Homo sapiens: one gene and its partners. The protein of the gene in region 2 interacts with the protein of the main gene of each other region in a pairwise test. Each region holds a gene or a part of one and is shown on either strand. Other genes may lie near its edges.

Region 1 (7,025 bases), on a different chromosome or scaffold from region 2:
GCCCTCCCACAGAATCCAGGAGTCTTTAAAGACCCTGACCCTTGGCGGAGTGCGGTGGTTCACGCCTGTAATCCTAGCACTTTGGGAAGCTGAAGAAGGAGGATCACTTGAGGCCAGGAGCTGCAGACCAGCCTGGACAACACAGCAAGACCTCATCTCTACAAAAAATAGAAAAATTAGCCAGGCGTGGTGGTGCGCACCTGTAGTCCCAGCTGCTTGGGAGGCTGAGGCAGGAGGTTCATTTGAGCCTAGGAGTTCACGGCTGCAGTGGGCCATGACCACACCACTGCACTCCAGCATGGGTGACAGAGTGACACTCTATCTCAAAATTAATAAATAAATAAATAAGATGCTGGCCCTCTTCTGCGAGCCCCACCAAGAGTGCCTTATTCAGTTGTATGTCTTGTGCACCGCACAACACCACGTCTCAGGGTGTACCATTCACACCATACACCTTCCAGAACTGTACATTTCTCATGACAATTTTCCCACCAGTGTCTGAGAAAGAGACTCCTTTTCCAGTTCTTCAAAGCAACTGCCTTGGCTACCTGCCCTCCATTCAACACATTAAATTGCATCCCGACCCACACAGACTGTACTTTATCTACAAGCACAGGAGTTGGCAGCATTAATCAGTGGACTAGCTAATATTGCAATACTGCACCACAATATTGAGCTGTTCCCATCATATTTGGGGGAAAATAAAAGACATTTTCTAAAATGAAACCTTTTTATGTGTCTTTAAGGAGTTTGTAACGATAATGAATGTTAAACATTTTATGTGCTGATAACAGGGCAAAACCACCTAGTTTGCTCGTCCAAAAAATGATGAAGACAAAACCAAAGCTCTAGATTAAGAGTGATTTGAAAAGACGTAACATCATAATATGTGTGCTTATTTGGATCTTGATTTTTTTTAATGAAAAAAATTATCATTTTACAGCCAAAAGGAAATTTGAATACAGCCAGGATATTTGGTATTACAAGAAAATCTTTAATTTTTTAAAGACAGAGCAATGATACTGAGGTTTAAAAAGTTCTTTTTTTTCGAAGGGCACAGGGGCTCATGCCTGTAATCCCAGCACTTTGGGAGGCCAAGGAGGGCGGATCACTTGAGGTCAAGAGTTCGAGACCAGCCTGGCCAACATGGTGAAACCGTCTCTACTAAAAATACAAAAATTAGCCAGGCGTGGTGGCACATGCCTATAATCCCAGCTACTTGGGAGGCTGAGACACAGGAATAGCTTGAACCCGGGAGGCAGAGGTTGCAGTGAGCCAAAATCACACCATTGCAATCCAGCCTGGGCAACAGAGTGAGACTCCGTCTCAAAAAAAAAAAGCTATGTTTTTTGTTTGTTTTTTGAGACAGGGTCTCGCTCTGTTGCCCAGGCTGGAGTGCAGTGGTGTGACCAAGGCTCACTGTAGCCTCAACCTACTGGGCTCGAGTGATCCTCCCACCTTAGCCTCCCCAAGCACTGGGATTACAGGGAAAGAGTTCTTATCTTTTATTATTGTTGTTGTTGTTGTTGAGAGACAGGGTCTTGCTCTGTCACCCAGGCTGGAGTGTGGTGGCAAAATCATGGCTCACTGCAGCCTTGACCTCCCCAGGTTCAGGTGATCCTCCCACCTCAGCCTCCTGAGTACCTGGGACCACAGGCATGTGCCATCAAGCCCAGCTAATTTTTGTATTTTTTTTAGAGATGGGGTCTCCCTATGTTGCCCAGGTTGGTCTCGAATTCCTGAGCTCGAGCAGTCCGCCCACCTGAGCCTCCCAAAGTGCTTGGATTACAGGCATGAGCCACCGCACCCAGCCATCTTTCTTATTTTTAAAAAACTTATTATTATTACTAAAAATACAAAAATTAGTGGGGTGTGATAGCACATGCCTATAGTCCCAGCTACTCGGGAGGCTGAGGCAGGAGAATCACTTGAACCTGGGAGGTTGCAGTGAACCAAGACTGTGCCACTGCACTCCAACCTGGGCGACAGAGCGAGACTCCATCTCAAAAAAAAAAAAAAAATTATTTGTCCTTTTTTCAGAGAAATACTCCCTGATTTCTGAGTTCTCCCAGAACCCTACCACACAGTTAATTCTTCCTCTTCATCATTTCTTGCTCAACTTAAATGTAATTTCCTCAGAATGACCTTCATTGTGAGCCCCGCATCCAATATAAAGCCAATCTTTTTATTGTCTAAGAGCTCCTTCTACATTCCCAAGGCAGCTCTCATCCCAATTTGTAATTATGTTCAGTTCTTTGTTTACTTATCATCTCCTCTCTTTTCCATTAAATTTTAATGTCTAAAAGTACAAGAAAGTGGTCTTTTCTTATTAAAACATTATAGGTAGCTGGGCACAGCAGCTCACGCCTGTAATCCCAGCACTTGGGAGGCCAAGGCTGGGGGATCACTTGGGCCCAGGAGTTCGAGACCAGCCTGGGCAACATAGTGAGACCCCCCCTCTCTACAAAAAATATAAAACAATTAGCCGGGTGAGGTGGCTCATGCCTGTAGTCCCAGCTACTTAGGAGGCTGAGGTGGAAGGAATGTTTGAGGTCAGGAAGTCGAGGCTGCAGTGATTCGTGATCGCACCACAGCACTCCAGCCTGGGTGACAAAGCCAGACTCTGTCTCTAAAAAACAAACAAACAAAAAGCAACTTTATGCCCCATCACTAGCACACTGGTAGCTACATCATATGTGTCCAAAATTCTGAGTGAAGAAACGAATGAATTACCAAAGTATCAATTTCACCTTCTCTGTATTGCCCAAATGATCACTTAGCTCTACTTTGCAACCATTAAGAGCCTAGATTACCATCATTCATTTCCTAACCCCGCTAATAATGCCTTATCTTGTCTCTACTCAGTCATGCCCGTCCTTCTTACAGTCCATCCCCACCATCTAGCTAATTCTGCTAAACACCATTATTCTTTAAAGATACACAAATATTTTTGAAAAAAATACATGTTGGAATTTGCTTAAAAATCACATGAAAGTGAGAGGCCACGCACAGTGGCTCACGCCTGTAATCCCAGCACTTTGGGAGGCCGAGGCGGGTGGATCACGAGGTCAGGAGATCGAGACCATCCTGGCTAACACGGTGAAACTGCGTCTCTACTAAAAATGCAAAAATTTAGCCGGGCGTGGTGGCGGGTGCCTATAGTCCCAGCTACTCAGGAGGCTGAGGCAGGAGAATGGTGTGAACCCGGGAGGCGGAGCTTACAGTGAGCCGAGATCGCACCACTGCACTCCAGCCTGGGTGACAGAGCGAGAGCCATCTCAAAAAAAAAAAAAAAATCACTTGAAAGTGAGAGAGTGGATGGGGCAGGACTGGCCATGAGTGGCTGGTTATTGATGTTGGACATATGGAGTTCATTCCACTATTTTCTATATTTTATTGGTGTTCAACATTCTTTAACTAAAAAAACATTTTTCGGCTGGGCGCAGTGGCTTATGCCTGTAATCCCAGCACTTTGGGAGGCCAAGGCGGGCGGCTCACCTGAGGTCAGGAGTTTGAGAGAACAGCCTGGCCAACATAGGGAAACCCCGTCTCCATTAAAAATACAAAAAAATTAGCCAAGCGTGGTGGTGCATGCCTGTAGTCCCAGTTACTCAGGAGGCTGAGGCAGGAGCATGGCTTGAACCCGGGAGGCAGAGGTTGCAGTAAGCCGAGATCATGCCACTGCACTCCAGCCTGGGTGACAGAGTGAGATTCCATCTCAATAAATAAATAAACATTTTTTGTGGATGTTTAATTCTCTCAGCCAGCCTATGAAGGAGCTACTGTCACAGGAAAGGAACAGAACATAATTAAAAGCTAGGTTCTAAAGTCAGACTACCTGGGTTCTAATTCTCTCTCTGACAGTCACAAGCTATAAGATTTTTCAGGCTGGGTGCAGTGGCTCACAACTGTAATCCCAGCACTTTCAGAGGCAGAGGTGGAAGGATTGCTTGAGCTCAGGAGTTTGAGACCAACCTGGCCAACATAGTTAGACCCCACCTTACAAAAAAGTTGCCACGCATGGTGGTGCATGCCTGTGATCACAGCTACTTGGGAGGCTGAGGTGGGAGGATCACTTAAGTGCACAAGGTCAAGGCTGCAATAAGCTGTGATCATGCCACTGCACTCCAGCCTGAGTGACAGAGTGAGACCCTGTCTCAAAGAGATTTTTGAGGCCAGGTGCAGTGGCTCACGCTTGCAATCCCAGCATTTTGGGAAGCCGAGGCAGGAAGATCACCTGAGGTCGGGAGTTCGAGACCAGCCTGACCAACATGGAGAAACCCTGTCTCTACTAAAAATACAAAATTAGCTGGACGTGGTGGTGGGAACCTGTAATCCCAGTTACTCGGGAGGCTGAGGCAGGAGAATCGCTTGAACCCAGGAGGCGGAGGTTGTGGTGAGCCGAGATCACACCATTGCACTCCAGCCTGGGCAACAAGAGCAAAACTCCATCTCAAAAAGAAAAAAAAAAAGATTTTTGATTTCCCATGCCTGTTTCCTTTTCAGTAAAATAGAGAAAATAGAGTACACATGTCAAAGGGTGTTTGTGAGGTTTCAATAAGCTAATCTATGAAACTCAGTGCTTGATGAATGAATAGTAAGTGCTTGATAACATACCCTAAGGTCAGTAATATTATTCCCAGTTAACAACTAGGGGCCAGGCACAGTGGCTCACGCCTGTAATCGCAGCACTTTGGGAGGCCAAGGTGGGAGGATCATTTGAGGTCAGGAGTTTGAGACCAGCCTGGCCAACACAATGAAAGCCCACTTCTACTAAAATACAAAAAAAAAAAAAAAAAAATAGCCAGGCATGGTGGCGTGCGCCTATAGTCCCAGCTACTCAGGAGGCTAAGACAGGAGAATCACTTGAACCTGGGAGGCAGAGTTTGCCATGAGATGAGATTGCACCACTGCACTCTAGCCTGGGCGACAGAGTGAGACCCTGTCTCAAAAACAAAAAAACAAACAAACAAAAAAACCCTGCTGGGCGCGGTGGCTCACGCCTGTAATCACAGCACTTTGGGAGGCCAAGGCAGGTGGATCACCTGAGGTCGGGAGTTCGAGACCAGCAAGACCAATGTGGAGAAAGCCTGTCTCTACTAAAAATACAAAAAAATTAGCCAGGCGTGGTGACTCATGCCTGTAATCCCAGCTACTCAGGAGGCTGAGGCAGGAGAATCACTTGAACCCGGGATGCAGAGGTTGCGGTGAGCCAAGATCACACCATTGCACTCCAGCCAGGGCAACAAGAGCAAAACTCCATCTCAAAACAAACAAAGAAACAAACAAAAAACCCCTAAGGCACAGAGAAGTGAAGTAACATGTTCAAGGGCACGCAGCAAGGAAGAGGCAAAGTCAGCATTTGCCTGGAGCTCCCGGACATCCAAGTGGCCCCATTCCACACAATCTCCCAGGGTCTGACCGCCCACATCCCCGCTCACCTGGCTGGTGTGATTAGCACCCATTTGCAGCAACATGTGGACACAATCCAGCCTGTCTCGGGCCTGTGTGCTCAGCACCCGGGGACAGAGGTCGGAAGGGCGCATAGCAACGTTAAGGGCCAGGATGGCCGTGTGGAGCGGGGTGAGGCCTGCAGAATGGAGACAGTGAGGGACCCGCATCTGCACCCACCTCGCCCAGCCACACCAACCACACCAGCCCTGCCCACACCCAACTTACCCTCGAAGTCTCTGGCTTCCAGGTCAACCTGGACCCCAGAGTTAAGCACAGCCTGGGAGGAAGAGAAGGCAGACTGCTGGGTAAGGGTATCCCCTGGCCTCCTGGCCCTGGAAGCCAAAATCTGGGCAACCAGTCTACCCCCCAGACAAACCCCTGCCTGCCAGCTGGCCATACCAAGAGAACTCCTGGGAGCCCGTAGGTAGCGGCCACGTGCAAGACCGAACGTCCCTGATGGTCAGCGGCATTGGGCTCTGCTCCCAGGTTCAACAGATCCTCCACAATCAGGGGCTGGTTGGCAGCAGCCGCCACCAGGAGAGGGGTCTGCAGGCCACAGGAGAAGTCAGGTTGGGCTCCTGGTTCCCTCCCGTCAGAAAACCAGGCTCCCAGCCCCATCCCCCCTCAGCCCCAGGAGCTCACCCCCCATTCCCCTCTTCTCTAGGATCCAGGGGTCCAGGCCCCAGGCTCCTTCCTCCCCTGAACCCAGGAGAGTTCAGGCCCCAAGCCTCACCTTGCCCTTATGCTCACGAATGTCAAGACGCCGGTACACCTGGAGCACCTCAGCCGCAGCATATGCCGCCCAGCGCAGCCCCCGAGCCGCAAACAGGTGAAGGAGCCTGAGGACAGGTGGGGGACAGCCGTGAGAACAGCCCCCACCAAGCCAAGAGTCTGCAGACAACCCTATCCCTTATACTCACGTGTCCCCCTCCTCATCCTGGGCCAGCAGCTGCTGTGGCCCCAAAGCCAGCATGTGAGCTCGGGCCACCTCCAGCGATGGTCCAGGGACCACAGCGGGGAACTGTGGGGGTCCTGAAGGGGGTGCAGAAACTCTCCAGGGTCCAGCCTGTGGCAGAGAAGATCCTACATAGAACTGGGTGTCTGGGGGGTCCTGGAGGGTGCAGGTGGTGGGGAGACCCAGTCAGCTGAGAATTCCTCCATCCCAAGCCACCACACACACATCTGCATGCAGAGCCCCTGGGTATCCCATCTATGCCAAGTGACCTTGGACCTTTAGGCCTCAGTTTTGCCCACCTGGAAAAGGGTATTTTTTTTTTTCGGTGACAGAGTCTTGCTCTGTCACCCAGGCTGGAGTGCAGCAGTGCAATCTCTACTCACTGCAATCTCTACCTCCTGGGTTCAAGCAATTCCCCTGCCTCAGCCTCCCGAGTAGCTAGGATTACAGGCGTGCGCCACTACACCCAGCTAATTTTTTTATTTTTGGTTTCACCATGTTGGCCAAGCTGGTCTCAAACGCCTGACCTCAAGTGATCCGCCTGCCTCAGCCTCCCAAAGTGCTGGGATTACAGGTGTGAGCCACCACGCCCGGCCTGGAAAAGGGAATCGTAACT
Region 2 (7,117 bases):
TTTAAGTTGCCATGGAAACTTCTTGTTTGATGTTCGTGGGCCCAGATAAGCTGTTCTAGGCGCCCATGGGCTTGGAGAAAGGGGGCAAAAATGAAACAAAAGCTGTTTGGGGAGGTTATTTTCTGCACACTGCAGCCCAGCCCACTATAGATGCAGGAAAATTCTCCACCTCCCTGTCAGGACTGCCTCCCCTGGTCTTCCCTGTCCCCCTTCCTTTGGGTTCCTCTGGTTCCCAAGAAATCAGAGTTAAAAGGGGATGGGAGGGAAGACAGGAGGGGTGTGCCCAGCCCCTGGGCTTCCCCCTTTGATGCCCCAGCTCACCAGGGGGCCGAGCAAGTATGCAGATCCCCAGGCCCCTGGCTTCCCAGAGTCCTTCCTTTTGGAAGAATAGGAAGACCTCCAGGGAAAGCCACACAGAAGGAGGCAGGAGACAGCGACTGTGGCTTGAATTATGCAATTACCTGGAGTAAACGCCTCAAAGGCTTGTTTGTTCAGAGGGCCTCTGTTTTCCCATATTCTGATGACATAACTGAGCCAGATGTGATTCCTAACTAACTACAGTTGTTTGGGAAATGTTGCTCTTTCTCACATTTTTAATTCTTAGAGTCTTTTTCTGATAACAAAAGTAATATATGCTAGGGCCTTTTTTTTTCTTTTAACACCGCAAACATCACAGAAATGCAGTGACAAAGGAGAAGGGCCTGTAATTTTACGCTGTAGAACAATGGTCCTCAAACTCTTTAATATAAATGAGCCCCCAGAGAGGTATGTTTAAAATCCAGATTCCATGGTGGCTTCATTCCTGTGATCCTAGCACTTTGGGAGGCTGAAGCAGGAGGAACACTTGAGGCCAAGAGTTCAAGACCAGCCTGGGCAACACAGTGAGATCTCATTTCTAAAAAAAATAAAAAATTAGCTGGGTGTGGTGGCATGTGTCTGTAGTCTCAGCTACTTGGGAGACTGAGGTGGGAGGCTCGCTTGATCCCAGGAGGTCAAGGCTGCAGTGAGCCATTATGGCACCACTGCATTCAGCCTAGGTAACAGAGTAATGCTCTGTCTCAAAAAAAAAAAAAAAAAAAAAATCCAGATTCCTAGGTTCCTCCCTAGGAAAAAAAAAAAGCAAGAGCATTTTTAGCACTCATTTCAAATGACATCTAGTAATAGTATTTGAGATACACTGATCTAGAGTTGACCTCTGCTAACAGATTAGTGTATTTGCCTCCACACTAGTTCTTTATACATATACCAACTTTTTTATCTTGAAAAAAAAAAGAGATCCTACTACATATGATTTTTCATTGAATATGTAGAAGACATCTTTTTCAGGTCAATACATAGACATGTTTATTGGCTGCATCTCGTCTTGGGGTGTAGCATAGTCTCTTGCTGATGGAGTGTGGCCTGGGAAAGGGTGGTGGTTGGCCGCTGATCTCACGTACAGTTGCACCTGCACATGGACACACAGCAAGATGGTGCTGTAACAAGCTCAGCGCTGTCAAGGTTTTCGGTGTCTTCAGGTTAACAATAGTTATTGAGCCCCTCAGTACTGGGACAGGAAGATAGGTAGGTACCTGCCCTGGGGCTAGCAGTCTGATGGGTTTGTATACAAGTTGGACTGTGAGAAGAGTTTTTGTGGGAGAAGCACAGTGACTCCCAACTGCCCACGGAAAATGACGCCCAACATCCGAGGACTACTGCCCAGTTCTCCTTGGCTGTCAGGTGCGTGTTCCTCTGAAGTGTACCAGGTGATGGGCTTCTGTCTTCTCCGGGGATGAGCAGGAGCTGTCAGAAGTTCCCCCGCTCCAGGATCCTTCTTACTCTCCAACTGTTAGAAGGCACTGGGATTGGTTCATCTGAGCCACCAAAGACCCTAGGAAATATTCAAAATACTTCTTTGCAGAGCAGGAGGATGTGTGCAAGGAACCAGGGTCAGCAAAGAGTGGTTTGACAAGAATCTAGCTGTCCTCTTCTACCAGGAGAGTTTGGGGAAGTTAAGGCAGAGCAGGGTGGGAGGCTGAGGGGGCTACCATTCATAGTGCCTCAAGAAATGCAGAATTGGGGAAGAAGAAAAAAAGGGACCACACATTGTTTCCAGAAAATTGTTTTATACCCAAGAATTTAGGACCCTCTTAGTTTAAGTGGCTCGAGAATGGTCAGCGTGGCCAAGACTCCCTGGACATGCCTGCCCTGTCCCTCCCACTCCACCCCTGTCTCCCACCTCCCTCACTCCCAAGATGGCACCCAGCCTGCCTTTACATCACACCAGGATCCACCCAGTCTGGGCCTTTCCACTGGCTCTTCCCACCCTACGAAGACTCTCCCATGTGTACAGACTTCACACAACTGACTCCTTGTGATTCTGCTACCCTAAAACACCACCCGCTCTCACCTCACCCAGCCTTGCGTTCATCACGGCATTCCTCACTGCCTGACGTCATCCTGAATGTCCCCTTCTTTACTGTGTGTCCCCCTTGAAGGTAGGTTCCCTGACAGCAGGGATATTACCTGTGTCATTCACATGGTACCCCCAGCACTTAGAACAGTGCCAGGAACACAGTAGGAATTAAATAAATGTTTGTTAAATGAACAAATAATATAGGCCAAAGAAGACACAAGGTTGCCTTGTTAAAGCCTCCATTCACCTGTGATGCATGTCCTAGGCCTCATCACCTTCTAGCCAACCAAGACTCCATGAGAAAGTAAAGTTGGGGTGGAGGCCTGGTCTAACTGGTAGACCCCAGCTTCCTCACTGGGGAACTAGGATGACACTAAACGATAGAAAACACTTCCAGCTTTTCAAGTGAAAGCTGATTCTGAAATTAGGAGAATGCCTCCATTATCTATAAGCATCCAGGCTGGCCTTAAGGATCTACATACATTTTTTACTTTTCTTGGGTTTTTTTGTTTGTTTGTTTTTTGGGTTTTTTTGAGACAGTCTTGCTCTGTCACCCAGGCTGGAGTGCAGTGGCCCAATCTTGGCTCACTGCAAACTCTGCCTCCCAAGTTCAAGCAATTCTCCTGCCTCAGCCTCCCAGGTAGCTGGGATTACAGGTGTGTGCCACCACCCCTGGCTAATTTTTGTATTTTTAGTAGAGACAGGGTTTTACCATGTTGGCCAGGCTGTTCTCAAACTTCTGACCTCAAATGATCTGCCTACCTCAGCCTCCCAAAGTGCTGGGATTACAGGCATGAGCTACCATGCCTGGCCTACTTTTATATTTTACATTCACATGTTCATTCATTGAGCCACTACTTATGGAACACATATTCTGCCAGGCAAAATGCACCATGCTGGGCTCTGGCCTCAGATCACGTAGAGTCCAGGTCTCTCTTGGAGAAAAGTCCTATATGCTGAGCTTTGACTATGTGCTTCACTAATGTCATCTCATCCATGTCATCTCCCAACCACCCTGGTATGCTCCACATTTGACAAACACAGAAACCAAGACACAGAGACACTGAGTGGCTGCTGAAGGGGCTGGTGCTGGAGCCAGGGCCAACACATGAGCCTGCTGAGACCCAGACACGGTGCATCCCCTCTCCCACGCTCTTCCGTTGGCTCCTCTGTGAAGTTCCAATGACATTCAAGGTATCAGGAAAACGCTGTGTACGGAGTTTCTGACCCATTCGTGGATAATTAAGAACTGACCCAATGCTGAGCAGTTTCCCCTCCCTTTACACCCCACCCTTTTCCCCCCAGAGCCATTTTCTCCTGAAGAATCCACACCACTGCCTCAGGAAGCTTGGCTTCCCCTCCCATGGGGAAGTGCTGGAATCCACTCTTGCCTGACCCTCCCATAAGAAACAAGGGAAATTCCTTTACGTGAGCCGCCTTGCTCAGAACAAAGCTTGGCGTGTTTCTTATTCCTCATCAATCTGACAAAATGGGTATTTATTTGTGCCTCTCAAGCGTGTGGCTTGGACATGATGTTCCGCATCGTGGAAGTGGCCGTGCACCAAGTGGAATATCTGTTACTATAGTAACAGTTCCTTTTTATTGATACCAGAATAAACAGGAATGCAAAGGCTGTCTCACTTGTTGGCACATTTCAGCAGCCTCCGTTCCCAGGGGTTTAAGAACCGCCCTCTAGAGGCAGCCCTCCTTGCTAGTCTGGGACTTCCCGGTGGAGTGAGGAACCCAGCAACACGCTCCTGACTTCCCTTCCCAAGGACTCGACCTGAGAAGTAAGACCATCTCTGTTCTGTTTCATCTGCTGTTGAGAGCGGTGCCGTTCGGGAGGAGGTGGAAGGGAAGGAGGGCAGACCCGGTACACTGAAGTGGGCTGTCAGTGGACCTGAGTGCTTTGAGTTTAGGTACCCGGGCTATGTCCCAGCATCCATAAAATGATACGGGAGATGCCTCCAGGCACCCTGGGTTTCGGAAAAGGGTAGGAGACAAAGAAGCGAGCCCCCTGGCATAGCCCTGCATTCTTGTTGATCTTTTTCTGCTGCATCCTCAGGTGAATCTGAATTAATGCATGATATAGCCTCACCTAAGTCAATTATCACACAGTATGGGGGTTTAATTCTCAGCACAACAGACAGAACACAGATTTCAGCTTCAGAGTTTGGCTCAGATTCAAGCTCTTTCCTTCACCGGCTGTGTGATTTGGGGAAATCAGATGACTTCCCTGAACTTCAGTTTCCTTGACTGTAAAAAGAGGATAATAACAGTACCCACCTCTTCAGTCTGTCGTAAGAATTTCATATTTCATGAGATATGGCTGCTAGGTGCTTAGCACAGTGCATGGCACATAGTGCACGCAGGTTAACGTGTGAAGGGCCTGCCTTTCTGGTGAATTTGGCTTTAGGACTTTGCAATACAAGGCAAGTCTGAGATTGGGCCAGAAATCAAGAGCTGTAGGATTGGGTGTGTCACTTTTTGAAACTGCTACCAAACCCAAGTAGCTTTGAGCTTCAAGGCAGCCCCCACGCCTGCATCTCTGGGTGGCTTAGATCCTGAGTGGCCCTCTTAGTTCTGTTGGTGGTGAGTACCTGCTGGAATTTTCCCTGCAGAGGCATCTGCCAGGTAAAGTGGCTGACATCATGCCACTAATGAGCCAGCAGGGATTCCAGGTCTGCTGATGCTTGTTCCAGATCAACTGCACAATGCTGTCCACTAACCTTGCTAAGTATCCTCCATGTCTAGCCCTGGACTCTGCTATTTAATTGGTTCAAAATCCTAAATGTCCACCCAACATTCTCCTTCCGAGGTAGGAAGTTGCAACGGACCTGAGGCAAAATGTTCAGGAAGTCAGCCTTGAGTCATTGCATCCAAATGGACAAGCAGCTCTGCTGGGGGCTTCCGAGCATCGACCAGAAGCTGCTGGGAGATCTGGAGGTGGCTCCGAGATACACTGTTCTTTGGCTGCTGGCCAGTGAAATACAAATAGGCACTTTCCCCATGGAGAGGAAAAAAGCCAGAAGGGTCAGGAAATCCAGTGACCGTGCTTGTCACTTTTACTGAATGCCTGTTTTTCCTTTGCCAGTCGTTATTTTGAAAGCCTCTCTTCTCCTCTGCCCTGGCATCCCATTAAATGCTGAACCAAGAGGGTTCTGAATGTGTTCGGAACCCAGCAGCTTGAACAGTAATGAGGAAGTGGGGGCACAGGAGGGAAGGCCACCAGCTGGTCCTCTCCTAAACAGAGACCAGCCTGAGGCCAGACAGGCCCGTGGACTCTAGCTTAAGCCCAAAGCTGCTAGGGCCAGGCTGGGGCTCCCCAGTGAGAGTTTGCATTTCACGTAGGCTAGGAGTCCTCAAGTTAGCAGGCCTCCATGTTCTTATCTATAAAATGGGCTCACACAGCCTCTTCATTGGGGTTTCTTGACTATCTAGAGAGAGAAAAGGGACATAACCCTGCTTTGTCAACTAAAAGACATTTTGCACCTTGAAGACAGTGGAGAGGTAGAAAGAGCATTGAATTTGGCGTCCAAGGTCCTGGCTTTGCTGCTTACTCTCTGTGTATCGAGACAAGTAGCTTGGCCTCTCTGAGCCTTAGTTTTCTCATCTATAAAACAGGGTACCACTGGCTGCCTCCAAGGGTGATTTAGAGATCCAGATCAAATTCTAGTGGTGACCACAGGGTTTCTTCAGGACAGAAGTACCATAGTTTGTCTTCGGTGAGCATCACTCTGCCAGGCGCTGGGCTAAGCACATCATGCCATTGTATCACTTCACCCTCCAAACTGCTCCATGAATAGGCTGTTATCCTTGCTGTATAGAGGCTCAGAGAGGTTAAGCTACTTGCCCAAGGTAACACAGCTGGGAAGGATTGCCACCATGAATCAAACCCACTCTGTCTCCACTAAAACATCTGCTTTAACCATTGCTTTACTGGCTTATGTGTCATTTGTTACAACTGATGCCATCGAAGACAGAAACATGACTACCAGAACAGTGGAGAGGCAAGTGGAAGGGACACTGAGGCCTTAGACAGCCTGGGGTCCCATGGCTATTGTCAAGACGAACTGGGCCCCGAGACTCCATCAGTGCAGCTCTCCTTCTGTCTCTCCTTACTCTCTCCTGTGGCTGCAGGCACCAGTGTTTGGTTTCAAATCTGCCACCCTGCATTAGCCATGCATGCCCCAGTGGCCCGGTGCACTCTCCGTGGGAGCAGCAGTGATCTCTGCTGAGCCTTGCCTGGTGTGGGGCCAACATCCTGTGGAGCCTGTGGCAAGGAGCTCTGGGACCTCTTGGGTCACCAACAGAACCAGGGAGGAACCAAGCAAGGGGTTCCAAATCTTTCCTCAGACCCCTTATTATCCCCACCCCAGGAAAAACAACATCAGTCCCATAAACTGCATATTGAGAATTATTTGCCATCCTATAGTCATGCAAGACACTCAATAGCTGTCGCCTACTGGTGGCCTCCACCCCATGCCCAGCTCTTTAGCTCATCCAATCTTCACAGCATCACAATTCTACAGAGGAGCATCCCAGAGGTTAGAGACCATCCCAAGATCACACAGCTGCTAAGAACTGTGACCTTAATCAGATTTGCTCACAATAACCAGGCCAACTACAGTCAGCTGAGATCCTTCAGGACCGAAGCAAATAAGTTTGTGTTTTGGGTTTTTAACTCCATGGTTTGCAAAGTTGGCTGACTCTAGGAATCAC
Region 3 (7,123 bases), on a different chromosome or scaffold from region 2:
CCACCGAGCCCAGCTCGGATGTATTTTTTTCTATTCCAGCCCAGGCATACGTGACTTGCCCCAAATACAATGGTAATTAGCAGCAGAGCCAGGACTAGAAACAATATTTCTGGCTCTTTGTCCAGTCCTCTGGCCACTTGGGAAAGGCTGTAGGATGAATAGATTACAGTCTGTTAGCAGTCGTCTCACTTTTCCACTAAAACAACTCTTTAAAAGATGACCAGTGACTTCCTCATAGATAAATCCAAGATCAAGTTTCATTCCTCAGTCTCCTCTACCTTTGCAGGAGCTGTGACACTACTGACTCACTAAGTCCAGGTCCACCTGACTCCTGAAGCCCCTAGAAATAGAAATCTGATCCTCCTCCTTCCCTGACTCATATCTTCTCATATCTGTCCTCTAAGGCTCTTTTTCTTTTTCCTGTCCCTTTTGTAAATGTTTGGCTTCTTTTACTAATCTTAAATACACATCTCCAACTGGATATTCCACCAGCAATCCAAGCACATCTTGCTCAAAAACAAATTCACCGCCGGGCACGGTGGCTCATGCCTGTAATCCCAGCACTTTGGAGGCTGAGGCGGGCGGATCATGAGGTCAGGAGTTCGAGACCAGCCTGGCCAACATAGTGAAACCCTGTCTCTGCTAAAAATACAAAAATTAGCTGGGCACGGTGGTGTGCACCTGTAGTCCCAGCTACTCGGGAGGCTGAGGCAGGAGAATCGCTTGAACCCGGGAGGCAGACATTGCAGTGAGCCGAGATTGCACCACTGCACTCCAGCCTGGGTGACAGAGCAAGACTCCATCTAAAAAAAAAAAATTCACTATCCTCCCAGCCCCCATTCCAGGTCTCCCTCTGAGTCCTCTATTTCTGCAAATGCATCAACTATGCTCCAAAACACTCAGGAGCAAAACTTTGGAATTGTTTTTTCCTCTTTGGTCTTCACATGCCTTCAGTTGCTAGGTCTTCTAGACCCAAAAAAATCTCCCCAAACTATGTCATTCTTTGCACATTAATTTCACTGCCCTGGTGGAACGTCTCTTTAATTCCCCAAGGCTAGCCTGATAATTTCCTAATTGGTCTACTTCAAGCCAACCTACATACTGCTGCCAAGTCAATAATATCCAAGTGCAAACCGAATGATGTCTCTCTCTTGCTGTAAAACATTCCATGGCTCCCATGGCATGTATAATTGTAGTCAATGTCACCCTGTTTTCCTTTTTAAAAAAAATGTAGGCTGGGCACAGTGGCTCACACATGTAATCCGAGCACTTTGGGAGGCTGAGGCGGGCAGATCACCTGAGGTCAGGAGTTTGTGACCAGCCTGGCCAACATGGTGAAACCCCGTCTCTACTAAAAATACAAAAATTAGCCAGGTATGGTGGCGGGCGCCTTTAATCCCAACTACTTGGGAGGCTAAGCAGGAGAATCGCTTGAACTTGGGAGGTGGAGGTTCCAGTGAGCTGAGACAGCACTATTGTCTGTCACCCACGCTGGAGTGCAATGGTGCGATCTCGGCTCACTGCAACCTAGACCTCCTGGGTTCAAGCGATTCTCCTGCCTCAGCCTCCCCAGTAGCGGAGATTACAGGCGCCCACCACCATGCCCGGCTAATATTTGTATTTTTGTAGAGACGGGGTTTCACCATGTTGGCCAGGCTGGTCTAGACCTCCAGACCTCAGGAGATCTGCTCACCGGTCTCCCAAAGTGCTGGAATTACAGGCGTGAGCCACTGCGCCCAGCCGAAACTCCGTTTCAAAAAAATAAAAATAAAAATAATGTATCCAACTGAAGTGTCACCCTGTTTTCTACAACAAAGCTACAGTTTTCACCTCCAGTTTCATCTGGCAGTACTCCCTGGATGTACTCTGCGCTTCCACGTAAGAGGAACTGCACTTGCTCCCAGGGCTCCTCCCTCAGCTCAGCTTGGTCACCTGCAAGCCTCTATTGGTGCCATTCTTCACCCCAGGAATGCTGTTTCTTCTCAGAGCCCCCTCAGTTCAGGACAGCACTCCCTCCAGTAGCCTTCCTGACTCCCTTGGACCAGATGTGATTTCTTCCACATCTGAGTCTTCCCAGTTCTGGGAGGTTTTACTGAATCTTTTTAATAGTGCTTACTTCCTACCTGACCTAGACTGACTGTATATTCCCTTATGCAGAGACTTTGTGTGTCTCGTTTGCTTATGCACAACATGTGTTCCAAAGATATTTGACAGAATCGAAAGAGAAAACCGATTCCTGCCCGGAAACCTTTGGACAGAAGAATCTACATTCAGTAGCCTGACAACTCTGCCTTAGCAAACAAGTTGGTCAAACATGCCTAACTCCATGACAAAGAGGAACTAACTTGAGCCCTCCCTGGTGAACAATGGCCTGCTGCACTTTGCTTTAGGATTTTGTTTCTTAACTTTTCATTTTAGAATAATTTTAGATGTACAGTAAATTGCAAAGATAGTACTAAGAATTCCTGTGTACCTTTTACCCAAATTCCTCTAATGTCAACATTTGTGTACAATTTGTCGAAATTAAGAAATTAACATGGGTACGTGCTATTAACTAAACCACAGCCTTTATTATTTTTTCCACTAATGTCTTTTTCTGTTTCAGGATCCAAACCAGGATACTGGCGCTATAGTTTTATAAGGCTCAAAATTAACAGAAGAGAAAAAAAGTAAAGCAGGTGGAGAGGCAGAGAGAGAAATAGGGTCTCTGAAATCTATTTCTTATTTTTTTCTTATCAGACGAGGCCATTAAACTGGCATTCAGGGAAAAGGATTTGGGCAGTTTGTCCACAACCTGCAGAGTTTCCACGAATCTGCGCATCCCGCCCCTGCCCTGGGTCCTCCCCACTCCCGGTTCCCACCTGCCAGGTCTGACCCCGGGTACCCTCTCAAGGTCCGTGGCGGGGACCGGAGCCCGGACTCCAGCTCAGCGAACAGCACCCTCCTACCGCCCCGGCGCCCCACTCAGCTCGCTCACCTGGCAAGTAGCCTCCTCTCCGTGCGCGTGCGCCGCTGCCGCCGCGCGTCCTCCGGGCCACCACGTGACCGCGTGGGCGCAGTCCCAGACAGGAAACGCCGGTGAGGTCGCCCTGGGCCATGGAGGCAGCTCGCGCTACTTTTTCGCGACCTCACTGTGTTCCTGTGTGCAACCTGATGTTAGCTCTGTCCACCTTCAGCTCCAAAGCCAACCACGGGTAACCAATATGCAAACAATGACATGAGATTTAGAAAAACAACAAGACGGGGCCTGTGTCAATACAGGTAAAATTTGGTGGTTCAAACATTGAGGTTCAGACCGGCGCGGGGTTTCACACCTGTAATCCCAGCTTTTGGGAGGCCAAGGCGGGAGGATCGCTTGAGGCCAGGAATTCGAGACCAGCATGGCCAACATAGTGAGACCCCGCTCTACAAAAAATTTAAAAAGTAGGGCTGGGCGCGGTGGCTCACGCCTGTAATCCCAGCACTTTAGGTGGCCGAGGCGGGTGGATCACGAGGTCAGGAGATTGAGACCATCCTGGCTAACACAGTGAAAACCCTTCTCTACTAAAAATACAAGAAATTAGCCGGGCGTGGTGGCGGGTGCCTGTAGTCCCAGCTGCGCAGGAGGCTGAGGCAGAATGGCGTGAACCCGGGAGGCGGAGCTTGCAGTGAGCCAAGATCGTGCCACTGCACTCCAGCCTGGGCAACAGAACGAGTCTCCGTCTCAAAAAAAAAAAATAATTAAAAAGTAGCGGGTGTGGTGGTGCGTACCTGTAGTCCCAGCTACTCAGGAGGCCGGGAGGCCGTCAGGTGGGAGGATCCCGTGAGCCTGGGAGATCCAGGCTACAGTGACCACTGCACTCCAGCCTGGGCGACGGAGTGGAGACCCTGTCTCAAAAAAGAAACAAACCAAAACCAAAATATTAAGTCTCTAGGAATCCTGTAAGAGAAGGGTAGATCGGGCCAGGTGCGGTGGCTCACGCCTGTTAACCCAGCACTTTGGGAGGCCAAGGTGGGTGGATCACCTGAGGTCAGAAGTTTGAGACCAGCCTGGCCAACATGGTGAAACCCCATCTCCACTAAAATACAAAATTTAGCCGGTCGTCACACGTCCGGAGGCCGAGCCGTCGCGTACCTAGGATGCCGCGTGGAAGCCGAAGCCGCACCTCCCGCATGGCCCCTCCGGCCAGCCAGGCCCCCTCAGATGAGAGCTGCACCCAGGCCAGTACCAGTCGTTCAGCCACCAGCAGCGGCACCCCCATCTGTAGTTGGCTCTTCTGCTGCTGCGCCCCGGCAGCCAGGTCTGATGGCCCAGATGGCAACCACTGCAGCTGGCGTGGCTGTGGGCTCTGCTGTGGGTCACGCCATTACTGGGGCTTTCAGGGGAGGAAGTAATGCTGAGCCTGCGAGGCCTGACATCACTTACCAGGAGCCTCAGGGAACCCAGCCGGCACAGCAGCAGCAGCCTTGCTTCTATGAGATCAGTTTCTGGAGTGTGCCCAGAACCAGGGTGACATCAAGCTCTGTGAGGGTTTCAATGAGGTGCTGAAACAGTGCCGACTTGCAAACGGATTGGCCTAATCAAGAAGTTCAACCTGGAGAGATGGAAAATCAGCTCTCATAACTAAGTTAATTTAGTATAAAAATAGAATTGATAGTGAGGGTATAAAGTGTAACCATGAGTTAAACCTCTCCTGTCATTCCTAGCTTCCTTGCTTCAGAATTGAAATGGAAGGGGGGTGTTCCTACTCTGTAGAATCTGTGACAGGGCAAATGTTTGTGTGGCCTCCTTAAACTAGCTGTTATGATTTTATTCTTTGTGAGTTAATTAGAATAAAGTCATTTTCTTCCAAAAAAAAAATTAGCCGGTCGTGGTGGCAGGTGCCTGTATTCCCAGCTGCTTGGCTGAGGCAGGAGAATCTCTTGAACCCGGCAAGCGGAGTTTGCCGTGAGCCGAGATCGCGCCACTGCACTCCAGCCTGGGTGACAGAGCAAGACTTTGTCTTAAAAAGAGGAGGTGGGGGTGGGAGAGAGAGAGAGAGAGAGAGAGAGAGGGAGAGGGAGGGAGAGAGAGAGAGAGAGAAATCTAAGCTGAGGTTCAGAGGTAGAGGCAGTCATTGAAAAACAGGCTTTTGCGGGCGGGCGGCGTCCACTGCAAGGATGCACTGTCTGGCTCCCTCTGGAGGCGGGAGCACGAAGGAGCGACCACGGAGCCCTTGAGCCTGTGGATGGTGGCCTCGGCGGCCGGCAGGCCATGCTGGAGTATCTGCCAACCTGATGAAGACGAGGACGTCCCACAAGTTCCGGACAGACGTGGCCGCCAAATTAATGAGGAAAGAAAAGGAGTCTTTTTTTTTTTTTTTAAAGACAGAGTTTTTCTCTTGTTGCCAGGCTGCAGTGCAGTGGCGAGATCTCAGCTCACTGCAACCTCTGCCTCCCGGGTTCAAGTGATTCTCCTGCCTTAGCCTCTGGAGTAGCTGAGATTACAGGTCTGCACCACCACGCTCAGCTAATTTTGTATTTTTAGTAGACAGGGGGTTTCTCCATGTTGGTCAGGCTGGTCTCGAACTCCTGACCTCAGGTGATTCGCCCGCCTTGGCCTCCCAAAGTGCCGGGATTACAGGCGTGAGCCACCGTGGCTGACCAAAGGTGTCTTAAGCTTAGAAAAATGATAAAAGATATAAAAGCTGCCTAGGAATGAAACTACTGGGTCATATGAGGCTCCTTCAGGGTGCGCAAAGTCCTGGAAACCAGCATGCAGATAAGGAAAGAAAGAGACCATCAGTCCATGCAGTTGTCAGCTGGCTGGGAGCTGAGGAGAGTCACTTGTGGAGGCACCTGATCTTTGTCCCCCACGTCCCAGACAAGCCCATATCTCACTTTCAGAACTAAGATGCTTGGGAAACCAAGACAAGGAACTGTGTATTGCAAACAGCATTACCCTAGAGAAGAAGTGGCAGGAGATGACCTACAAAAAAATGGAGCAATAGCCTAGAGCAAGAAACAGAACAAAAGAGAACTGAGTCACCTCCTGGAAGGTCACACAAGACAAGCACATATTCAGGGGCCTCCTAACAGACTAGACTTCCAGCATCCTCAGTTGGGGCTAGACACTTTTTACATAGACATTCAATACTAGAGAACTCAGGGACATCTGATTTATACCATGAAATACATACACAGCAGATGTGTGCCTGTGGAGCAGAATTCTGGAAAAGCTCACAGCCCAGAACATAATGCAGACTCCCCCAGCCACAGCACCTTCCAATCCTGAGAAGAGTGCTGATTCTCCATCTGAGCACCCATTCTCCTGCAACATCAGGGGAGAGGAGTTCACCTAAGGATCAGACCAGTATCTCCAAACCCAGCTCCCCACCTCTGCCTGTTGGTGGCACTTGTGGGTGAAGGGGAGATGGTATGAAAAGACTCACAACAGGAGTCACCTGAACAAGGTGGGGCTTGGTGGAAACTGACATTTGTTCCTGTTGGAGGCAAATGTGGAATTTGGCATCTTGCCTTAGCAACAGACACATGAAATTCTCCAGTGCCCAGGACTTTTGACAGTGACTTCAAAGCACAGCTGGGAGACCCATGTGGCCCAGGCTCTACCCAGGCAGGAGCTCAGCTTCACTCACAGCAGGATTCCTAGTGCCAAGAACACCATGGGTGCATAGCAGGTGATCAAAATAATTGTATGTGGCTGAATCAGTGAGAGGTAAGAGAGAGGACTTGAGGCCGGGCACGGTGGCTCATGACTGTAATCCCAGCACTTTGGGAGGCTGAGGTGGGTGAATCACAAGGTCATGAGATCAAGACCATCCTGGCTAACACAGTGAAACCCCATCTCTACTAAAAACACAAAACATTAGTCGGGCGTGGTGGCACGCACCTGTAATCCCAGCTACTCGGGAGGCTGAGGCAAGAGAATCGCTGGAAGTCGGGAGACGGCGGTTGCATTGAGCTGAGACTGCACCACTGCACTCCAGCCTGGGCCACAGTGCGAGACTCCGTCTCAAAAAAAAAAAAAGAGAGAGGACTTGATCCTAGCGGCAAACTAAGAGACCTCATTAAAACCTAACATGTGAGGCCCAGCATGGTGACTCATACCTGTAATCCCAGCACTTTGGGAGGCTGAGGCTGGAAG
Region 4 (7,025 bases), on a different chromosome or scaffold from region 2:
GTTGGGACTACACATATGCACCACTACACCTGGCTTTTCTTTTTTTTTTTTCTTTAAATAGAAATAAGGTCTCACTATGTTGCCCAGGCTGTATGTAACCTTTTTTATTAGTTCGTTCCCTTCAAAATACACATTTTTTGTAACAGAACTGAAAATCATCCATCAAAACCTTCAAAAAAAGGTTTGATTTCTTCATCCTGTACTAATCAATCCAAACATAACATGCTGTTTTATATACACACAAATAGCAGGAAGAAGTATGCCTTTGTGTTGAAAACAATAAGTGAAACAAAAAAATAAAAATAAAATAAAAAATATATGCATACATACATATACACATACATGTAGAGAAAGGGACTTAACTCACTGGCTCCAGTAAGCATCTAGAGGTCTGCCTCCATAGGCTCAGCAGAGGATCCAGCTAGAGAAAACTTATTTTATTTTTTTGAGACAGAGTTTCGTTCTGTCACCCAGGCTGGAGTGCAGTGGCGTGATCTCAGCTCACTGCAACCTCCACCTCCCGGGGTCAAGTGATTCTCCTGCCTCAGCCTCCTAAATAGCAGGAATTATAGACACGTGCCATCACGCTCGGCTAATTTTTGTATTTTTAGTAGAGACGGGGTTTCACCACGTTGGTCAGGCTGATCTCGAACTCCTGACCTCATGATCCGCCCACCCCAGCCTCCCAGAGTGCTGGGATTACAGGCATAAGCCACCGTGCCAGGCCGAGAAAACTTATTAATACATGCTCTACCTGCTAAATATTTTCCTTCAAAGCAAAGGAAGGGCCGGGCACGGTGGCTCACACCTGTAATCCCAGCAGTTTGGGAGGCCAAGACAGGCGGATCATTTGAGGTCAGGAGTTCAAGACCAGCCTGGCCAACATGATGAAACCCCATCTCTACTAAAAATACAAAAACTAGCCAGGTTTGGTGGCACACACCTTGTAATCCCAGCTCTAGAGAGGCCAAGGCAAGAATCACTTGAACCGGGAGGAGGTTGCAGTGAGCTGAGACTGCACCACCGCACTCCATCCAGCCTGGGTGACAGAGCAAGACTCCTCAAAGAAGAAAAAAAAAAATGCAAGCTGGGTGCGGTGACTCACACCTGTAATCCCAGCACTTTGGGAGGCCAAGGTGGGTGGATCACAAGGTCAGGAGTTCAAGACCAGCCTGGCCAAGATGGCAAAATCTTGTCTCTACTAAAAAATACAAAAAAATTAGCTGAGCATGGTGGCACATACCTGTAATCCCAGCACTTTGGGAGGCTGAGGCAGAGAATTTCTTAAACCCGGGAGGCAGAGGTTGCAGTGGGCCGAGACTGCGCCACTGCCATCTAGCCTGGGTGACAGAGCGAGACTCCATATCAAAAAAAAAAAAAAAAAGGAAACAAAGATCTCATTCTAACAGGCTGAGCATCTATATTTTGCCAACATACCCCAGGTGATTCTGAATTAAGGCCAGGCTAAGAAGCACTGACTTGATGAGATGATATCCAGGCAATGCCTTTAGAAAGGGCATTTAGTGGCCAGGTGCAGTGGCTCACACCTGTAATCCCAGCACTTTGGGAGGCCAAGGAGGGCAGGTCACTGGAGGTCAGGAGTTCGAGACCAGCCTAGCCAACATGGTGAAACCCTGTCTCTACTAAAAATACAAAAATTCAGCCGGGCACAGTGTCTCATGCCTGTAATCCTAGCACTTTGGGAGGCAGAAGCTGGTGGATCACTTGAGGTAAGGAGTTTGAGACCACACTTGCCAACATGGTGAAACCCCGTCTCTAATAAAAATACAAAAACTAGCCGGGTGTGGTAGTATGAGCCTGTAATCCCAGCTACTCAAGAGGCTGAGGCAGGAGAATTGGTGAAACCAGGAGGCGGAGGTTACAGTGAGCTGAGATCGCTCCACTGCACTCCAGCCTGGGCGACAGAGTGAGACTCTGTCTCAAAAAATAAAATAAAATAAATACAAATACAAAAATGAGCTGAGGATGGTGGCGCATGCCTGTAATCCCAGCTATTCAGGAGGCTGAGGCAGGAGAATCACTTGAAACCCGGAAGGCAGAGGTAGCAGTGAGCTGAGATCACACCACCACACTCCAGCCTGGGCGACAGAGGAAGACTCCATCTCAAAAAAAAAAAAAAAAAGAAAATGGCATTTATTAAGTGAATTTTTCTTATAGTATGTGGGAAAACATATACAAATATTAGTCATCAGCAAAATACAAAGAACATTATAGAATAATTTCAATCAACAGTGATTAGATACTTATTCTGTACCAGGCACTGCGCTAGAAATATGCAGATAAACAAGACACAGCATCCGTCCTTCAGGTCACTTTGGTATATAAGAGTGTTGTAAGCAAATAATTTCAACAGTGGGATTAATGCAATAAAATAGACAGGCTATATTTAATGAATGGGCACATTAATCACCTAAAGATCTTGTTGTAATACAGATTCTGATACAGTAAGTCTGAAGTAAGACTGAGATTCTGCATTTCTACAAAGCTCCCAATCTGCCTAAACTAACATGGTATCAGCAAGAGTGGGAAAGATGGGCCGGGAGCAGTGACTCACGCCTGTAATCCCAGCACTTTGGAAGGCCAAGATCCACTTTCGGGCAGATCACCTGAGGTTGGGAGTTTGAGACCAACCTGACCAACATGGAGAAACCCCATCTCTACCAAAAATACAAAATTAGCCGAGCGTGGTGGCACATGCCTATAATCCCAGCTACTTGGGAGCCTGAGGCGGGAGAATCACTCGAACCCAGGAGGTGGAGGTTGCAGTGAGCCAAGATTGTGCCATTGCACTCCAGCCTGGGCAACAAGAGTGAAACTCCAACTCAAAAAAAAAAAAAAAAAAAAAAGAGTGGGAAAGATGGGATGGATACCAGAGATGTTGAGGCTGAACTCAGATGACTTGGTGATGGGATAGAGGATGAGAGGATGATAAGAAGGAATCTAGGACTCCTAGGCTTCAGGTCTGGGTGACAGGCAAATAGTGGTGCCATTATCTAACCAAGACAGACAAGCCTCTAAAAAATGGATCAGTATAGTTTTGGACATGCTGAATTTAAGGTTCAATAAGGAACTTCAGTAAAAGTTTCTGTGGTCATTAGGGAAACAAACCTGATTACAGTGGGTAAAAGATGAATGACAAAAAGTAGAGATAGATAACAAAGGTTACTTTCTGAAGCCTGACAATCAAAGGAAAGAACTAATACCTGCTAAAAGATCATGGGTTTTTTTGTTTCTTTGTTAAGGTTTTATGGAAAAGACCTGTCTATGTGCACATGCTGAAGGGATAGGACTGGTTGACGAACACAGGGTAAAATTATAAGAGTGACACAAGTTTACTGAGGTGGCAGAGAGAACCTGGGGTATAAGGTCTGCCTTCGACTGATCCTTTGCTGAATGAAGAGGTTAAAAATGACTGCACATAAATTTGTCGATTGTGGGATAGACTATTCAACAGACTGAATTCAATGCTACTAAATTCATGCTAGGCTTCTATTTTTTTCTGCTAGGGAAAAGGAAAGGGCAGAATGGACAGGTTGGGTAGATGTCTCAAACAGAATCTGAAAGAACAGTTGAGGGGAGTAGCAGAGGAGCTGACGTTCCCATGGAAGGACTGCTGGTGGGGCTGAAGACTCAGCCAGGGTGGCAGACCACACACATAGATTGGCATCAATCTACTCAGCTGCATGACTTCCTCCAACTGGGCCCACAACAACCTGCCTGCAGGAGTGAAAAGGCAGACAAAGCCAGGCTAAACTTGAAGACTAGCAGTAGTTGTGGTGGGAAGACAGGAAGGTGTGGAGGCCTAAGGTAATGGGGACAGGAGAATATACGATGACCAAAAACCTGGAAATAACCCACACAGAATTTACTTAACCTAATTTAGTAGCTATATGATAAAAATGTTTTATCTTGGCCGGGTGTGGTGGCTCATGCCTGTAACCCTAGCATTTTGGGAGGCCAAGGCAGGCGGATCACGAGGTCAAGGAATCGAAACCATCTTGGCCCAAGTGGTGAAACCCTGTCTCTACTAAAAATACCAAAATTAGCTGGGCGTGGTGTCGCGTGCCTGTAGTCCCAGCTACTCGGGAGGCTGAGGCAGGAGAATCACTTGAACCCAGGAGGCAGAGGTTGCAGTGAGCCGAGATCACGCCATTGCACTCCAGTCTGGGCGACAGAGTCAGACTCCGTCTCAAAAAAAAAGAAAAAAATGTTTTATCTTTGACAAACACACCATTGCCAAGTAGAGGGGCCTACTTATTTTTTTGTTTAAGCTTATACTCATTGGGTTTTTAAAAAATTATTTTAAGTGATATGTTCATTGTAAAAGAAAAAAAAACCTATAAATACATAGAAATATATATTTTTGAGACGGAGTGTCACTTTTGTTGCCCCGGCTGGAGTGCGATGGCATGATCTCAGCTCACAGCAAACTCCGCCTCCTGGGTTCAAGCGATTCTCCTGCCTCAGCCTCCCGAGTAGCTGGGATTACAGGTGCCCGCCACCACACCTGGCTAATTTTTTTTGTTGTATTTTTAGTAGAGTCGGGATTTCACCATGTGGGTCAGGCTGGTCTCAAACTCCTGACCTCAGGTGATCCACCTGCCTTGGCCTCCCAAAGTGCTGGGATTACAGGTGTGAGCCACCGTGCCAGGCCTAAAAATATTTTTTAAATACATCACTTGTCAACCAACCACACAGAAATAACCGTTACGTTATACTTCTTTTCACTTTATACTTCTCCCTATGGGTACATTTATTAAAATCTGAAATGTGGCCGGGTATAGCAGCTCACATCTGTAATCCCGGAACTATGGGAGGCCAAGGCAGGTGGATCACCTGCGGTCAGGAGTTCAAGACCAGCCTTGCCAACATGATGAAACCCCATCTCTACCTAAAATACAAAATTAGCTGGGCAGGGTGACACATGCCTGTAATCCCAGCTACATGGGAGGCTAAGGCAGGAGAATTGCTTGAACCTGGGAGGCAGAGGTTGCAGTGAGCCAAGATGGCGCCATTGTACTCCAACCTGGGCAACAAGAGCAAAACTCCGTCTCAAAAAAAAAAAAAAAAAAAAAATTGAAATGATGGTGTTTACACCATGGTATATATTTTTGTATGCCATGAAATTATTTGCTTGTAAAAGCAATTTAAAAGTCACTGTATGTTCACTAGAAACAGATTGAAAGGAAAAAAAAGTCACTCTATGAAAATCTATGTAAAATGTTAGGTCTCACTATGTTTTGAAGACAAACCATATCAGTAGGAACTTTGTCTTTTACCTAATTTGTAAAATAGGTAATACAATGTACGTTCTTAAATCCTCTTAAACAGTATATAATAGACTATTTGTCACGTTCTATATCTTTAAAATTCTATATATAATAGATTATGTTTATATTATATTGTTAAAAGTATTCCACTGATAATTATTTCAGTGAGTTTCAATACTTACCTGTTCTTCTAACTGCATTTTACTTACTGTCCTCTGTTCTATGAGTTTATCAAGTTTCTTTAAAGATTTAAGGTCATTTCCAACTTCCTTTTCTATGAATGCAGACACATAAGAAGGGAGATCACCATTATCTGTACCTTCACTGACTTGTTTACTTCCAATAAGAACTGTAACATTTATGTCACCTACAACAAAAGAATAACAATTACTCAACGCCACTAAGTACTATGGAGTTAAAGAAAATATAAAACATATAAAAGCAGTTTATCTGCCTTCAAAAGTTAATAATTTTGCCAGGCACGGTGGCTCACACCTGTGATCCCAGCACTTTGGGAGGCTGAGGCAGGTGCATCACCTGAGGCCAGGAGTTTAAGACTAGCCTGGCAAACACGGCGAAATCCCGTCTCTACTAAAAATACAAAAATTAGCCAGGCGTGGGGGCACAGGCCTGTAGTCCCAGCTATTCGGGAGGCTGAGGCACGAGAATCCCTTGAACCCAAGAGGCAGAGGTTGCAGTGAGCCAAGATCACACCACTGCACTCCAGCCTGGGCGACACAGACAGACTCTGTATCAAAAAACAAAACCAAAACAAAGCGCCACTGCACTCCAGCCTGGGCGACAGAGACTCTGTATCAAAAAACAAAACCAAAACAAAACAAAGTTAATAATTTAAAGAACAACACACACAGACAAATGCCCAGAAGAATAGCTCTAAAGCACTCTATCAAACAACTACTGCAAAATGCTTAAGAGCTGAGGGAAGTATTAAAGGAAAAATTCCTAAAGTGTGATCCAGTAACCACAGGTTTCAATAGACAAGGAATAATACCTTTTCAAAATGTGTAAGGAACCAGTAGTATGGTCTAGGGCAACACCAAAAGAAGACTCTTGTTTTAAAGTGTTTTTAAAAAGACCGGGCGCAGGGGCTCACACCTGTAATCCCAGCACTGTGGGAGGCCAAGGCAGGAGGATCACTTGAGCCCAGAAGTTCTAGACCAGCCTAGGCAACAAAGCAAGACTTCATCTAACAAAATTAGCCAGGAATGGTGGAACACACCTGTAGTCTCAGGTGGGCTGAGGTGGGAGGATTGCTTGAGCAGCCTGGGAGATGGAGGCTGCAGTGAGCCATGATCTCACTACTACATTCCAGCCTGGACAGCAGAGCAAGACCTCATCTCTTAAAAACAAACAAACAAACAAACAAAAAAGTAAAAAAGGTTTGGCTGGGCGAGGTGGCTCAGGCCTGTAATCTCAGCACTTTGGGAGGTTGAGGCAGGCAGATCACAAGGTCAGGAGTTCGAGACCAGCCTGGCCAATATGGTGAAAACCTGTCTCTACTAAAAATACAAAAATTAGCTGGGCATGGCGGTGCACGCTTATAGTCCCAGCTACTCGGGAGGCTGAGGCAGAAGAATCGCTTGAACCCGGGAGGCGGAGGTTGCAGTGAGCCGAGATCACGCCACTGCACTCCAGCCTGGGCAACAGAGTGAGACTCTGCCTCAAAAAAAAAAAAAAAAAAGGTTTTTAAGCTTCAAATGTCATCGATGTCAT

What was found.
Region 1: the proteins of FAM107A (region 2) and NFKBID interact in binary tests that used the Homo sapiens proteins (3 or more experiments, as listed by UniProt).
Region 3: the proteins of FAM107A (region 2) and CCDC125 interact in binary tests that used the Homo sapiens proteins (3 or more experiments, as listed by UniProt).
Region 4: the proteins of FAM107A (region 2) and RINT1 interact in binary tests that used the Homo sapiens proteins (3 or more experiments, as listed by UniProt).

Annotation. Positions count from the first base shown.
Region 1 is NC_000019.10:35,890,539-35,897,563, forward strand, and holds part of NFKBID (NF-kappa-B inhibitor delta), read right to left. Parts: intron 6,566-7,025; coding exon of another isoform or gene 6,521-6,565; coding exon 6,375-6,520; intron 6,294-6,374; coding exon 6,188-6,293; intron 6,001-6,187; coding exon 5,854-6,000; intron 5,732-5,853; coding exon 5,680-5,731; intron 5,591-5,679; coding exon 5,442-5,590; intron 2,630-5,441; coding exon of another isoform or gene 2,522-2,629; exon of another isoform or gene 2,165-2,521; intron 1-2,164. UniProt on the Homo sapiens protein: Regulates the expression of IL-2, IL-6, and other cytokines through regulation on NF-kappa-B activity. Functions in the regulation of inflammatory responses.
Region 2 is NC_000003.12:58,574,377-58,581,493, reverse strand, and holds the start of FAM107A (actin-associated protein FAM107A), read left to right. Parts: upstream 1-4,102; 5' UTR 4,103-4,185; intron 4,186-6,679; exon of another isoform or gene 6,680-7,117. UniProt on the Homo sapiens protein: Stress-inducible actin-binding protein that plays a role in synaptic and cognitive functions by modulating actin filamentous (F-actin) dynamics. Mediates polymerization of globular actin to F-actin. Also binds to, stabilizes and bundles F-actin.
Region 3 is NC_000005.10:69,329,788-69,336,910, forward strand, and holds the start of CCDC125 (coiled-coil domain-containing protein 125), read right to left. Parts: upstream 3,015-7,123; 5' UTR 2,862-3,014; intron 1-2,861. UniProt on the Homo sapiens protein: May be involved in the regulation of cell migration.
Region 4 is NC_000007.14:105,535,198-105,542,222, reverse strand, and holds part of RINT1 (RAD50-interacting protein 1), read right to left. Parts: intron 5,659-7,025; coding exon 5,474-5,658; intron 497-5,473; exon of another isoform or gene 368-496; intron 1-367. UniProt on the Homo sapiens protein: Involved in regulation of membrane traffic between the Golgi and the endoplasmic reticulum (ER); the function is proposed to depend on its association in the NRZ complex which is believed to play a role in SNARE assembly at the ER.